Linked DNA regions of Homo sapiens: region 2 is linked to region 1. The links come from fine-mapping of genetic effects on gene expression. Tissue or cell type: whole blood. Region 1 holds a variant in brackets; the other region holds the start of a gene. All regions are shown on one strand. Distances are from middle to middle.

Region 1 (8,102 bases):
AGGTCTGTGACCTCTGTCAGCAAGAAGAGTCAGGAAGGAAAAATACTCAAACTGTAAAAGGGAATCTTTTTTTTTTTTTTTTTTTTGAGGTGGAGTCTCTCTGTCGCCCAGGCTAGAGTGCAATGGCAAGATCTCGGCTCACTGCAACCACCGCCTTCCAGGTTCAAGCGATTCTCCCGCCTCAACCTCCCAAGCAGCTGGAATTACAGGCGCCTGCCACCACGCCCGGCTAATTTTTGTATTTTTAGTAGAGAGGGGGTTTCCCATGTTGGCCAGTCTGGTCTCGAACTCCTGACCTCAGATGATCCACCTGCCTCGGACTCCCAAAGTGCTGAGATTACAGGCGTGAGCCACCGCGCCCAGCCCAAAGGGAAATTTTTTGTTTGGTTGGTTGGTTGGTTGGTTTTTTTGTTTTTTTGTTTTTTTTGTGTTTTTTTTTTGAGATGGAGTCTTGCTCTGTCGCCCAGGCTGGAGTGCAGTGGCGCGATCTTGGATTGCTGCAAGCTCCACCTTCCGGGTTCACGCCATTCTCCTGCCTCAGCCTCCCGAGTAGCTGGGACTACAGGCGCCTGCCTCCGTGCCCGGCTAATTTTTTGTATTTTTACTGGAGACGGGGTTTCACTGTGTTAGCCAGGATGGTCTCGATCTCCTGACCTTGTGATCCTCCCGCCTCGGCCTCCCAAAGTGCTGGGATTACAGGCTTGAGCCACGTGCCCGGCCCCAAAGGGAAGTTTTAAAACAACAATTTTAAGAACCCCTTCACAAAAGTCATCTCTGGAATGGTCCAGGAGAGAAGCTGGGAAATTCTTAACATACAAACAAACAAAAGCCCTTTTGCATGCACAACTCTGTTCTGGGAACAGAGTCCTCAAGCAGAAAAGGATCATAAAAGACTTCAGGTATAGGCTGGGTGCAGTGGCTCATGCCTGTGAACCTAACACTTTGAGAGGCTGAGGCGGGAGGATTGCTTCAGCCTGGGAGGTTGAGGCTGCAGTGAGCTATCATTGCACACTCCAGCCTGGGTGACACAGTGAGACCCTGACTCAAAAAAAAAAAAAAAAAAAAGAACTTAAGATATATTCAGTGCCTTCAGGCAGGCAAATCTCTAAGCATACCTTATTTTTCTCTTGCCAAAGAATTTAATCAATATTTTATCACACCAACACCTCAAAATGCCCTATCGTAATTTCTCCTGCTCTGAATTTAAGTCTTTTTTCTTTTTTTCTTTTTCTTTTTCTTTTTTTTTTTTTTTTTTTGAGACAGAGTTTTGCTCTGTTGCCCAGGCTGGAGTGCAGTGGCATGATTTCGGCTTACCACGGCCTCTGCCTCCCAGGTTCAAGCAATTCTCCTGCCTCAGCCTCCCTATTTTTTTTGCTTTCCATAGAGAAGGAGAAGGAGAGCACCTGCTTATGAAGCACACATTTTTAAAATCTCCTCATAATAGTGAAGACATTAATTGGAAGAAAATTTGTTATGGAGAATGGTCTGAGAAAAAAATAATTGGAAGTAAAAAACCCACTTCTCCCTTTAACTATTTCCTCCTAAGCAAGTCTCCCGTCTTGGCCATACTTCATAGGACCTATGTCCTCCTTCTCCCTGTTCTCTAAAAATCTGTGTACTCCATTATCCTTTTTAAAATGCTAGGCAAATCAGGTAAGACCCTCGGATAAGGAATTGCTAATACAGTACACAGCAGAAAGCTTACTCCCCAGCCCTTACATGGAACCTCCTTTTGTTCATTTTTCTCTCTGGGACACCCATTGCAAGTTGCCTTCAGCTTGCAGAGATGTAACCTTGAGAGCTACTCCTGGGATACTTGTGCTTCTCTAGCCTTTTCCAGTCTAAATTTGTGCTGTTGAATTTTTGTACTTATTTGATGTATTGCCAAGCATTTAGTCTTTTTTTTTTTTTTTTTTCGTATTTTGTAAGATCCTGGGCTTATTAGAACTGCCACCTTGGCTCAGCCCATGGTCCATTCAGCCAGAATTGTTTCTTTGACAGCAGAATTAGAAAATACATTTTAAAGGAGCTTGATTGTTTTCCCTGATGCAAGCATCAGAAGTTAAAGTCCCTTCCGAGTGGCCTAGATTTCCTTAATCATGCATTGTATCTGTGTTTGTTAAATTTAAATTTTAATTTTTTTTTGAGACAGAGTCTCCCTCTGTCGCCCAGGCTGGAGTGCAGTGGTGCAATCTTGGCTCACTGCAAGCTCCGCCTCCCAGGTTCAAGCCATTCTCCTGCCTCAGCCTCCCGAGTAGCTGGGACTACAGGCGCCCACCACCACGCCCGCCTAATTTTTGTATTTTTAGTAGAGACGGGGTTTCACTTTGTTCGCCAGGATGGTCTTGGTTTCCTGACCTCGTGATCCACCCGCCTCGGCCTCCCAAAGTGTTGGGATTACAGGCGCGAGCCACCATGCCTGGCCAAATTTTAATGTTTTTAAACTTATGATGTTTTAATGTTTTTAAATTTTAATGTTTTTAAACTTATGAGTTTGAATGTTTTTAAACTTACTGATGTCTCTTAGAAGTAATAATTTACATAAATTTACTATTAACTATGTATTTTTTTCTTTCATTCATCCTTAATTGACTTTTTCTAAGATTCAAACTCCCCCATTTCTAGTTCTTGAATTCTAAGATTTGGGGAGGGGAAAAATCCCTGTTCACTTTGTCTAATACCAGCCCCCCACAGACCAAACAACTTTGGAAGAAGATGAGCAGTGTCTTTCTGTCTGTTTCTTTCTTTCTTTTTTTTTTTTTTTTTTCTGAGGTAGAGTTTCACTCTTGTTGCCCAGGCTGGAGTGCAATGGCATTATCTCAGCTCACTGCAAACTCCGCCTCCTGGGTTCAAGTGATTCTCCTGCCTCAGCCTCCTGAGTAGCTGGGATTACAGACATGTAGCACCACGCCCGGATAATTTTTTTTTATTTTTAGTAGAGACATGTTTCACCATGTTGGCCAGGATGGTCTCGAACTCCCGACCTCAAGTGATCTGCCTGCCTCGGCCTCCCAAAGTGTTGAGATTACAGGCGTCAGCCACTGCGCCCGGCCCTGTCTATTTCTTTGCCCTAAAGGGACACAAGGGAACAAGCACCTGAACTGGCAGGAGGTAGTAGAATGGGTTTCAGGAAGAACTTCTGAAAAGAAAGATGAGCTGATTATCCGGTTAGTAACTCAGTTCCTCAGCTCTCTTAAGTCCTAGATGAAAAGAATAAGTAGGCCGGTCGCGGTGGCTCACGCCTGTAATCCCAGCACTTTGGGAGGCTGAGGCGGGCAGATCACGAGGTCAAGAGATCGAAACCATCCTGGCCAACATGGTCAAAACCCCATCTCTACTAAAAACACAAAAATGAGCTGGGGATGGTGGTGTGCACCTGTAGTCCCAGCTACTTGAGAGGCTGAGGCAGGAGAATTGCTTGAACTCAGGAGGTGGAGGTTGCAGTGAGCCGAGATCCCGCCACTGCACTCCAGCCTGGTGACAGAGCGAGACTCCGTCTCAAAAAAAAAAAAAAAAAAAAGAATAAGTAGGCCGGGAATGGTAGCTCATGCTTGTAATCCCAACACTTTGGGAGGCCAAGGTAGGCAGATAACCTGAGGCCAGGAGTTCAAGACCAGCCTGGCCAACATGGTGAAACCCCGCCTCTACTAAAAATACAAAAATTAGTCAGGCGTGGTGGTGCACTCCTGTAATCCCAGCTACTTGGTTGGCTGAGGCAGGAGAATCGCTTGAACCTGGGAGGCAGAGGTTGCAGTGAGCTGAGATCACGCCACTGCACTCCAGCCTGGGTGACACTGCTAGACTCCATCTCAAAAAAAGAGAAAGAAGGAAGGAAGGAAGGAAGGAAGGGGAAGGGCTGTGGTTTATGATCTTCAGAAAAGTTGAGATCCTGGCCAAGGAAAGGGGATGGTGATTGGCCCATTATTAACAAGAGCTGATTTTTTTGTTCATGAGATGGGTTTTTTGTTTGTTTGTTTGTTTTTCTTTTCTTTTCTTTTTTTTTTTTTTTTTTGAGACAGAGTCTAGCTCTGTTGCCCAGGCTGAAGTGTAGTAGTGCAATCTCAACTCACTGCAACTTCCGCCTCCCTGTTTCAAGTGTTTCTGCTGCCTCAGCCTCCTGAGTAGCTGGGGCTGCAGGCGCCCGCCACCATGCCCGACAAATTTTTTGTATTATTAGTAGAGACGGGGTTTCACCATGTTGGCCAGGCTGATCTCAAACTCTTGGCCTCAAGTGATCTGCCCACTTTGACCTCCCAAAGTGTTGGGATTACAGGCGTGAGCCACTGTACCCGGTCTCATGAGATGTTAAGAATTATTTGATGATTTAGACGTGGACACAGTAGTTATATACCTCAAAAGAGGGATCTCCTCTGTAAATCTTCTAATTTCCCTTACTAATTATGAATACCCATTAACTATTTTAACCCCTTTTTGTGTAACCTCTGTTTATATCTTTTGCCTTTTCCACCTAAACTTATTTAAGCTTAAGTGAAGTTTTGTTTGCTCTACATTGACCTCCTCTTAAATTGTACATTCCCAGCTTCTGTATTTGGAGCATAAGTCTGTATCTACTCTTTCCATTATTTCTGTGACTTTATAGATTCATCATGTTATTCCTCAAACATCATCTTTCTAGATCCAGCACTGAGGTAAAACTCAGAGGGGAGGGATGTAGAAGAGAGCAGAGGAAATTTAACAGAAAATTCTGGGGAGCTTTTCCAAATACAATGTGTCTGCTTCCCCCCTTCCCTGAGC[G/A]TATCAGAATCTTGGCTGGGGAAATGTGTTGTTGCTGTTGTTTTCAAGAGATAGGGTCTCCCTCTGTCACTCAGGCATTGGAGTACAGGGGCTCACTGCTGCCTTGAACACTGGGGCTCAAGAGATCCTCCCACCTCAGCCTCTTAAAATGCTGGGATTACAGGTGTGAGCCACCATGCCTGACTGAAATTTCAGTCTGACTGAAAGTTTTTGAGAACTTTCACATCTAATTCTAATGGTCAACTCTCTCTATCCCGTCATAGCCATTGTTCTGAACTGAAGGGCTCTTCAGTTCTTGGGGTCTTTTGGTTTTGTCATCATGAGGCACTTCCTTCATTTCCGTGTTAGCTCATACCTGACATTCTGATGGAATCAACTTTTCCATTCGGTGTGTAACCAACAGTAGATGGGGATTACAACAGAAGTTTGAAATCTAGGCCACGCACGGTGGCTCACACCTGTAATCCCAGCTTTTTGAGAGGCTGAGGCTGGCATATCACGAGGTCAGGAGTTCGAGACCAGCCTGGCCAACATGGTGAAACCCCGTCTCTACTAAAACAAAAATTAGCCAGGCATGGTGGTGCATGCCTGTAGTCCCAGCTACTCGTGAGGCTGAGGCAGGAGAATTGCTTGCACCTGGGAGGCGGAAGTTGCAATGAGCCGAGATTGCACCACTGCACTCCAGCCTGGGTGACAGAGCGAGACTCTGTCTCAAAAAAAAAAAAAAAGCTTGCAATCTTAAAAAGTAAGTTGGAGTCCAGGTGCAGTGGTTCATGCCTGTAATCCCAGCACTTTGGGAGGCTGAGGCAGATGGATCACTTGAGCCCAAGAGTTGGAGACAACCCTGGGCAACATGGCAAAACCCCATCTCTACAAAAAATACAAAAGTTATTTGGATGTGGTGGCACACACCTGTGGTCACAGTTACTTGGGAGGCTGAGACAAGAGGATTGCTTGAGCCAGGGAGAAGGAGGTTGCAGTGAGCTGAGATTGTGCCACTGCACTCCAACCTGGGTGACAGTGAGAGACTCTGTCTCAAAAAACAAACAAAAAATAGGTTGTTACTTAACTATGGATCCCAGAGAACTATTAGACCGTTCCTGATGCAAATCCACCTCATCCAACAGCTTTTTCTTGACTTTTCTTCCAGCAGCTTGCGCTAAATGAATTCATCAAGTGACTGAAGACAACCAGTGATGGACGGGGTGAATGATAGCTCCTTGCAGGGCTTTGTTCTGATGGGCATATCAGACCATCCCCAGCTGGAGATGATCTTTTTTATAGCCATCCTCTTCTCCTATTTGCTGACCCTACTTGGGAACTCAACCATCATCTTGCTTTCCCGCCTGGAGGCCCGGCTCCATACACCCATGTACTTCTTCCTCAGCAACCTCTCCTCCTTGGACCTTGCTTTCGCTACTAGTTCAGTCCCCCAAATGCTGATCAATTTATGGGGACCAGGCAAGACCATCAGCTATGGTGGCTGCATAACCCAGCTCTATGTCTTCCTTTGGCTGGGGGCCACCGAGTGCATCCTGCTGGTGGTGATGGCATTTGACCGCTACGTGGCAGTGTGCCGGCCCCTCCGCTACACCGCCATCATGAACCCCCAGCTCTGCTGGCTGCTGGCTGTGATTGCCTGCCTGGGTGGCTTGGGCAACTCTGTGATCCAGTCAACATTCACTCTGCAGCTCCCATTGTGTGGGCACCGGAGGGTGGAGGGATTCCTCTGCGAGGTGCCTGCCATGATCAAACTGGCCTGTGGCGACACAAGTCTCAACCAGGCTGTGCTCAATGGTGTCTGCACCTTCTTCACTGCAGTCCCACTAAGCATCATCGTGATCTCCTACTGCCTCATTGCTCAGGCAGTGCTGAAAATCCGCTCTGCAGAGGGGAGGCGAAAGGCGTTCAATACGTGCCTCTCCCATCTGCTGGTGGTGTTCCTCTTCTATGGCTCAGCCAGCTATGGGTATCTGCTTCCGGCCAAGAACAGCAAACAGGACCAGGGCAAGTTCATTTCCCTGTTCTACTCGTTGGTCACACCCATGGTGAATCCCCTCATCTACACGCTGCGGAACATGGAAGTGAAGGGCGCACTGAGGAGGTTGCTGGGGAAAGGAAGAGAAGTTGGCTGAGAGAACACTCCTTCGTTATTTATTGCGTCTTCATCTCTACATGCGTTTCTCATTAACTCTCTCTGGCCAGGTGAACATGAGGAATACTAATTCCGGTAAAACCAAGGCATGTTCCTGACAGCCCTAAGCTGACAGCCCTAAGCTGTTGGGAACATGGTTAGTGTTATTCGTAATGTTCTACACTTATTTACCAAAAATCCTACTGTGGACTACCGATAGCAGGGGAGACATGTTGTTGAGGGCTCAGAGGTTATTGACCTGTGACAGACCTGTCTCACTGTCTCTGTCTCTGTTGCCCACATGTTATTTAATATGCCTTATATTTCTGCAGAATTCTGTACTTTTCTAAGCAAAGCACCTCCACTTGCAGTATCTTACATAATGTTACTATAATTCCATAAAATCAAGCCATGTATTATTAACTTCATATGAAGACCCAAACAATTCATGTTTTTACCCTATCTGTCATTATCTTTGCCTACCTCTTTTTGTCTCTTCTTCATTTTTTTTAAGAGTTGGAGTCTTGCTCTGTTGCCCAGGCTGAAGTAGAGTGGCATGATCTTAGCTCACTGCAGCCTTCAACTCCTGGGCTCAAGCAATCCTTCAGTCTTCTGAGTAGCTGGGACTATAGGCACATGCTACCACACCTAACTAATTTTTATTTTTATTTTTTACAGATGGGGTCTCACTCTGTTAACAGCCCAGGCTGGTCTAGAATTCTTGGCCTCAAGTAATCTTCCTGCCTTGACTTCCCCAAGTGCTGGGATTATGGGTGTGATCTACCGCACCTGGCCTGTCTCTTCTTAATAATGCAGTATACCACTGGGTGCAGTGGCTCACACCTGTAATCCCAGCACTTTGGGAGGCCGAGGCGGGTGGATCACCTGAGGTCAGGAGTTCGGGACCAGCCTGACCAACATGGAGAAACACTGTCTCCACTAAAAATACAAAATTAGCCTTGCATCGTGGCACATGCCTGTAATCCCAGCTACTCGGGAGGCTGAGGCAGGAGAATCGCTTGAACTCGGGAGGCAGAGGTTGTGGTGAGCTGAGATCGTGCCATTGCACTCCAGCCTGGGTAACGAGCAAAACTCCGTCTCAATAATAATAATAATAACAATAATAATAATGTAGTATATCTGTCCATACTTTCCATCCATATATCTCTCCATCATCTTGTTTACCCTCTCCCTTATGCCTATATTCCAATTT
Region 2 (8,102 bases), 90 kb before region 1:
TCCGTATTTAAAAAAAAAAAAAGTCTTTCACAATTAGCTTAACTTCTAAGGGAGTATCAGTCCCGTGCCCCTAAACCATCATGATAAAGGAGGTATATAGTATTTACTTATTTATTTACTTGATTTATTTTGAGACAGAGTCTCACTCTTATCACCTGGGCTGGAGTGCAGTGGCAAGATCATGGCCCACTGCAACCTCCGCCTCCCGGGTTCAAGCGATTCTCCTGCCTCTGCCTCCCGAGTAGCTGGCATTACAGGTGCCCGCCATTACACCCAGCTAATTTTTTGTATTTTTAGTAGAGACGGGGTTTCACCATGTTGGCCAGGCTGGTCTTGAACTCCTGACCTTGTGATTCGCCCGCCTCAGCCTCCCAAAGTTCTGGGATTACAGGCGTGCGCCACCGTGACCAGCCAACTATTTTTTCATAGATGATGAAATGTAGGCTTACAGGTAGGGTGACCAACACATTTTGTCTAGGAGCAAAACCCAATTTGCCCAGTCTTAGCACTGAAAGCCTAGTTCTGGGAACGACCACAGTCCGGGGAAATTGGGACAATTGCCCACCCTGTTTAGATGGGTTAATTGACATACTGAACACATGTCTAGCTAGGAAGAGGCACCACAGGGCCATTCATTTACTCTTGGAGCACCTGCTGTATGCCAGATGCTATTCTAGGTACTACTGATACAGAACTGAACAGAAAAAAACTTCTTGCAGTGCTCACATTCTTTTTTTTCTGATATAAATGCCCTTCAGAAGAGGCCACATTCTTTTTTTTTTTTCGAGATGGAATTTCACTCAGTCGCCCAGGCTGGAGGGCAGTAGCGCAATCTCGCCACTGCAACCTCTGCCTCCAGTGTTTGAGCGATCCTCCTGCCTCAGCGTCCCAAGTAGTTGGGATTATAGGTACCGACAACCACGCCTGGCTAATTTTTGTATTTTTAGTAGAGACGGGGTTTCACCATGTTGGCCAGGCTGGTCTTAAACTCCCGGCCTCAAGTGATTTACCCACCTCGGCCTCCCAAAGTGCTGGGATTACAGGCGTGAGCTGCTGCGCCTGGCTCAGAAGATCCCGCATTTTTTTTTTTTTGACGGAGTCTAGCTATATTGCCCAGGCTGGAGTGCAGTGGTGCTATCTCAGCTCACTGCAAGCTCCACCTCCCGGGTTCACGCCATCCTCCTGCCTCAGCCTCCCGAGTAGCTGGAACTACAGGCGCCTGCCACCACGCCCGGCTAATTTTTGTATTTTTAGTAGAGACGGGGTTTCACCGTGTTAGCCAGGATGGTCTCGATCTCCTGACCTTGTGATCTGCCCACCTCGGCCTCCCAAAGTGCTGGGATTACAGGCATGAGCCACTGCGCCCAGCCAAGAGCCCACATTCTTATAGGAAAGTGTGAATTGATATAAACAAACAAATACACAATGTATCAGGGAGTGATAAGTTGGGGGAAAAAACAGCAGAATAATAGGGTTAGTGAGTGCAGGGGATTGGTTTCATATTTTTTTATTTTTATTTATTTATTTAGAGACAGAGTCTCACTCTGTCACCCAGGCTGGAGTGCAGTGGTGCTATCTTGGCTCACTGCAACTTCTGCCTCCCGGGTTCAAGCAATTCTCCTGCCTCAGCCTCCCAAGTAGTTGGGATTACAGGCTCACACCACCATGCCAGGCTAATTTTTGTATTTTTAGTAAAGACGGGGTTTCACCATGTTGGCCAGGCCAGTCTCAAACAACTGACCTCAAGTGATCCAACCGCCTTGGCCTCCCAAAGTGCTGTGATTACAGGCATGAGCCACCGTGCCCCCTGGTTTCATATTTTAATAGGGCACTTGAAGAAGGCTTTTGTGCTTGAACAGAGACCCAAAGGAAGAGGAGTAAGCCAGGTATTCATTTTGAGGATGAGCAGTCTTTGCCTATTTACAGAGTGCAAAAGGGGTAACTTTGTGCTTAGTGTTTGAGGAAGAGTGGTGGCTGGAGCAGAGGCACGGAGGAGGAGTGGATGGAGGGGTTAGAGAGGGAGCTGGAGTCCCCTATCAAGTAGCAGGGCTCCCAGGACACAGCAAGGACTTGGCTCTTACTCTGAGATGAGGGGACACTGGAAAGTTTGAGCAGAGCAGTGACATAATTGGAGTTACGCTTTAAAAGAAACATTCTGGGCCGGGCGCGGTGGCTCACACATATAATCCAGCACTTTGGGAAGCCAAGGAAGGTGGATCACCTGAGGTCAGAAGTTCGAGATAAGCCTGGCCAACATGGTGAAAGCCCGTCTCTACTGAAAATACAAAAATTTGCTGAGTGTGGTGGTGATGTGCGCGTAGTCCCAGCTACTCTGGAGGCTGAGGTGAATCACCTGAACCTGGGAGGCGGAGGTTGCAGTGACCTGTGATCGCACCACTGTACTCTGGCCTGGGTGAAAGAGTGAGACTGTTTCAAAAAAAGAAAGAAAAGAAAAGAGAACACTCTGGCTTCCATAAGAGACAAGAGATGAGAAAGGTGGAAACAGAGAGGAGAAAGCAATCTATTGTCACAATGCAGGAAAGCGACTGCAGGGCCCTGAACCACTGTGGAGGCAGAAGGGTCAGATTCTGGGTGATTCTGAAAGCAGGGCTGACATGATAAGGGTAGACTGGATACTGGCGGGTGTGAAGATGCATCTAAGATACCTGTTTCTGGCCAGATTTTACAAAGGGCCCTTGTTGCTACCTTAAGGAGTTAGTGTTGAATCCTGCAGCAGCTAAGAGCTTCTGCAGGATCTCCCTCTCAACTTGGACCAACCCACCTGCCGATCCCAGCCCAGATCAATGAGATCTGCTGCCCAGTCCCCTACGCAGATAACACTAATTGTAACTGATCTTTCTGAGGGCACCTCCTGAGCAGCTTGGAAACGGAGGGAGAGGAGAGGAAGCCAGCTTCCCAAAGTGGGGTGTGGCAGGTGGCCTTAACCCTGCTGAAGGGCTGCAGTCATGGGGCTCTGAATAGATCCCCACACCACTCACCAATGAGCTTCATTTGGAAGGCGGTAACGTTAAACAAGAGGGTTTGTAAAAAATAAAGGCCTACACACATAATTTTTTCTGATTATTAAATCTAGGTGGAGAGTACGTGAGTATTCATGTTACTCTCTCAACTTTCTTGTGCTTAAAAATCTTAAAATAAAAACTTTAATACGCTCTGTCCTACCAATATTTATAGGAACCTGACTAGCAGCCAGGCTTTGGACACGCAATCCCCGGCCACCAAAGGGCTGACAGGCTAGTGAAAGGGGCAGAAAAATAACAAAACTGTGTCTGGAAGGCAGCTACTCCCTTTTTTTGTTTGTTTGTTTTTTGAGACGCAGTCTCACTCTGTCGCCCATGCTGGAGTGCAGTGGCGCGATCTTAGCTCACTACATGTGCCTCCGGGGTTCAAGCGATTCTCCTGCCTCAGCCTCCTGAGTAGCTGGGACTACAGGCGCGCGCCACCACGCCCGGCTAATTTTTGTATTTTTTAGTAGAGACAGGGTTTCACCATATTGGTCAGGCTGGTCTCGAACTCCTGACCTCGCGATCCGACCGCCTCGGCCTCCCAAAGTGGTGGGATTACAGGCGTGAGCCACCGCGCCCGGCCCTTTGTTTTCTTACCAACTAAGCAGCAGCACTGACACTGTTTCCTTTGAGGTTCCGTTTGCTGAATCCTGCCCTCTAAGGTGCTCCGCCCTTCCACTCCCCGCCCCGTGCTGCTGTCATTCCCACGCCTCACCCTGTTTTGCAACTTCTTGTTTATGAGCCTGGAAGCCACGAAGTGGTGGGAAATACGAGATTCAAATATCTGGTGGCCGTGTGACGTGAGTAAATTACTCGATTTTTCTCAGTTTCCATTTCCTATCAAATGGGTTGTTCTGGGAATTCGGGGAAGTAACAGTGCCGGGAACCGCGGGAGGAACCGCCAGCTGCGTCCTCGGACGTCCCCAAAGCCCAGGGCGGCGACTGGCACGACTGTCAGGGGCGCGTCTGTTAAGAGGACAGGGGGTCCCGCCCCGGCACAGCCGTCTCCTCCAGGACCCCTCCCGCCGACGCCCCACGGACCCCACGCCCGAGCGGAGACCGGCGCGAGTCCGGGGTCTCCGGTCCGGCAGCCCCTCCCTGGCCCGGCGCCCCAAAGGGAAGCGGCCTGGGGGAGGAGACGTGTGGAAAGAGCGGCAGAAGATAAAGAGGAAGTAGCGGTAGAGAATAAAAAGGAACTGTCCGCAGTGTGCCCGGACGCGGGGAGGCGCTGGGGTCAAGCGAGACCCGACCTGCACGCAATTCCCGCCGGGGTCCCGGCCTGCCTGCGGGAGGGAAAGGACCCAGGGCGGCTTCTGCCAAAAGTGCGGCTTCTGCCGAAAGTGCGTCTTCTGCCGAGGGGCCCACATAAGGCGCGACAGACACTCCAGCCCGACCCCGACGCCCCGCCCTCACGCATGCACATGCGCGGAACACTCCCAGAAACACATCTCCCAGAGCGCCCCGGGAGCACGCGAGCCAATTGGAGGGCGGATTAGCGGGGGCCCACGTCTCCCAGAGGTCTCCGAGTCGCGGCTCTGTTGGTCTGATTGGCAGCCGCAACAGCCTATAGCTGCTTTTCGCCGGAGGGGCCACGCGCCGTTTGCCGGGACTGAGCCGCTGTTGTCGCTGGTATCCCGGGAGCAGCGCCGGCAAGTGGAGTCGTCGTATTCCGGGCGGCCCGCGGCCCACGGGGATGGGACGTCCCGGGGCTGTGCTGACCCCAAAACCCTTCCACACTTTATTAGCCTGTCGCCCTTCTTTCATGTTTACAGCAAATATTTTCCGAGTGCCTAATGTGTCCCACTTACTGTGCCACGTGCGAGGGTGCACGTGTCAGGCAAGATCGCTGTTCCAAGGAGGCTGAGAACAAGTAAATGGTAATTACCAGTTATGACCAAAGCTGTGAAAGGAACAGATACATCAGCCTAACAGCAGCACTGCCGTTTTCTCCCTTATAATCAGCAGAGGCGGGCTAGAGCAAGGATTCTCAAACTCTGCCCCCTCAGAACCCTAGAGTACGGTTGCTGAAACTTCTGTTTTTTCCTTTTGAACAAATCTAGTAACATGCTGTGAGCCAGAGAGGTAATGGTTTGGCTCAAAGAAGGCACATGCATCTGGTTTCTTTCTTCTTTTTTGAGACGGAGTCTCGCTCTGTCGTCCAGGCTGGAGTGCAGTGGCGCCATCTCCGCTCACTGCAAGCTCCGCCTCGCGAGTTCACGCCAGTCTCCTGCCTCAGCCTTCCGAGTAGCTGGGATTACAGGCGCCCGCCACCACGCCCGGCTAATTTTCACGCCCGGCTAATTTTTTGTATTTTTAGTAGAGACGGGGTTTCACCATGTTAGCCAGGATGGTCTCGCTCTCCTGACCTCGTGATCCGCCCGCTTCGGCCTCCCAAAGTGCTGGGATTACAGGCGTGAGCCACCGCGCCCGGCCCAGGTTTCTTATTTCAGGAGCTTCATAGGCATAGACCTCCCTCCTTCCCTCCTACCCCCTCCCCCCTCTCCCAACTAATGCCAGACCGGCCACTACTTTTTAACTGTTTTACATATTTAACCTTCAAGAAAGATTTCCTTTGATCCAAGTGTATTGCAGCCCACAAAAAAGCTTGGAAACCCAGCTAGATGGTCTGTTTTTCTAGTTCCTACATTGGATTTAAGTCCTACCCATCGAGACTACTGTCTTCAGGTAAGCATATCGAGGCTGTATTCACCTTCATGGTGTTCTCAGGGGCACTTTCTTACACAAATGATGGTAATCATCCTAGATCATTTCCCTGCCTGCCACACTTGCCAGTTAGTTAGAAACTGTAAACCCCTTAAATGTCTGTCACCAGGGCACTGGCTGAATAGCTGAGTAAGTTTTGGTGAATCCATTCCTTGGACTACACTGCATCCACTGAAAACAGTGCGGTGAATTTCTGTGTGCTAATGTGCAAAGATGGTTTATGTATTATTCAGTGGAAAAAGCACATTTGCACTACAGTGCAGATAGCATGATCCCATGTTTGTAAATAAGAGAAAAAAATGTTAAAATTTAAGTATCTGGAGGGAAATGCAAGAAATAAATATGACTACCTTTCAAGAGTAGAATTGGGGGTAGAAGTTGGCCTTTTCCCTCTATGTCATCTATACGTTTTATTTTTTTATTTTATTATTATTTTTTTGAGACGGAGTCTCACGCTGCTGCCCAGGCTGGAGTGCAGTGGCATGATCTGGGCTTACTGCGACCTCCGCCTCCCGGGTTCAAGCAATTTTCTGTCTCAGCCTCCTGAGTAGCTGGGATTACAAGCGCACGCCACCACGCCCGGCTAATTTTTGTATTTTTAGTTAGAGATGGGGTTTCACCATGTTGGTCAGGCTGGTCTCGAACTTCTGACCTTGTGTTCTGCCCGCCTCAGCCTCCCAAAGTGCTCAGATTACAGGCGTGAACCAGTATGCCCGGCGTTCAATGAGCATTTTTAAAGTTTTATGACTCATGAAACATAGTCCACAAATATATGCTCATTGTGAAATAGTAACGGAAAATAAAATATGGCAAGCTAAATGTTAGAGGAGAAATTTCTTATTTTGCTCCATTACTTTTACAGCAGAAAAATTAAAAAATTTATTAGCTGAGACTTTGTTTCACTGGGGTGCAGAAGATTAAACAAATGATTTTTAAAAGCAGACTCTGCCCATAGAGAAAAAATATTCGAGGTTTCCAAAGTAGAATAAGTTTAAATTAGCAAGTCAAATAAGGAACCTTGAGCCAGTACCGAAGGAAACACGTCCCAGACCTATCTCCAAACACACACACACACACACACACACACACACACTGCAGGCATAACATTTATGCAGACAGACTGTTCTTTAGGGCATAATTGTCTCATGTCTCAATTCCTCTGAAGCTCCAGAGCAGAAACTGAAATTTTAAAAATGCAGTTGAGATAAACTGAAATGACTGACAGGCCATTTGCCAAGAAAAGCTTTGGTTCTTTGGAACAAAGACAGTGCCCATATCCCAGCCAACATCAGGTGGTATTTCTCTTTCTGTCCTGTAGAGGGCATCTTCATGTGTGGGCACCAGGGCTGCGGCTGGAACCACAGTGGACACCCCACGCTCCAAGGACAATCCTCTGCAGAAACCAGCAGCTGGAAACAATTCTTAATGCTGCAGGAAGTAGTTAGGAGAAAACGACTGTGTAAGTCAGAGCTAAAACTGGAGTTCAAAAACCACAGAAAATATTTCCAAGGCTGTCTGTGAAGTGGGGATGTCAAAATACCAAAAATTACAGCTTTGGAACTGCAGTGGATGACCTTTAATTGATGCAGTTTATAGGTGCTAAGTATTGTGTGTGCTTTACGTTGCCTCATGTGAGTGCTTCATAGCAGGGTGTGACGCTGGCCAAGTGATATACCTACCCTCTTTGTCCCTGTTTCTATCAACTGTAAAATGGGGGTTCTAGAGTTGTTGTGAAGATTAAATGAGCTAATACACACAAAGCACCAAGAACAATGCTGGATACAAGGTAATAGGTGTTTCTTCCTAGACTTCACTATCCTCATGTGAGGTGGGTATGTTTATTTATTTATTTGGGGACAGGGTCTCGCTCTATCACCCAGACTGGAGTGCAGTGTTGCAATCATGGCTTAGCTCCCTACAGCTTTTTAAATTTAATTATTTATTATTATTATTTTTTTGAGATGGAGTCTCACTCTGTCACCCAGGCTGGAGTGCAGTGGCACGATCTCTGCTTACTGCAAGCTGGGCCTCCCGGATTCACACCATTCTCCTGCCTCAGCCTCCTGAGTAGCTGGGACTACAGGCGCCTGCCACCACGCCCAGCATATTTTTGTATTTTTAGTAGAGGCGGGGTTTCACCGTGTTAGTCAGGATGGTCTCGATCTCCTGACCTTGTGATCTGCCCACCTCGGCCTCCCAAAGTGCTGGGATTACAGGCGTGAGCCACCGTGCCTGGCCTCAGCTCCCTACAGCTTTGACCTCCCCAGCTCAAGTAATGTCCCACTTCAGCCTCCCGAGTAGCTGACACTACAGGAATGCACCATCATGTATACCTGTGGTCCTAGCTACTTG

Evidence for each region. PIP is the estimated chance that this variant, and not a neighbour inherited with it, causes the effect.
Region 2: it holds the start of LINC00921, and the variant in region 1 is fine-mapped to the expression of LINC00921 in whole blood (INTERVAL, PIP above 0.99).

Annotation. Positions count from the first base shown.
Region 1 is chr16:3,349,990-3,358,091 of GRCh38, forward strand. OR2C1 (olfactory receptor family 2 subfamily C member 1) reads left to right here and starts at 5,900. Exons shown (of 1, transcript NM_012368.3): 1 at 5,900-7,317. The coding sequence starts at 5,952. The coding sequence ends at 6,890. The variant G/A (reference allele first, on the strand shown) is at 4,756.
Region 2 is chr16:3,260,058-3,268,159 of GRCh38, forward strand. It overlaps LINC00921 (long intergenic non-protein coding RNA 921), which reads left to right and starts at 3,711. Exons shown (of 2, transcript NR_033904.1): 1 at 3,711-5,711; 2 at 7,069-7,510. RefSeq lists enhancers at 3,772-3,931, 4,372-4,471, 4,622-4,691 and a silencer at 3,952-4,131.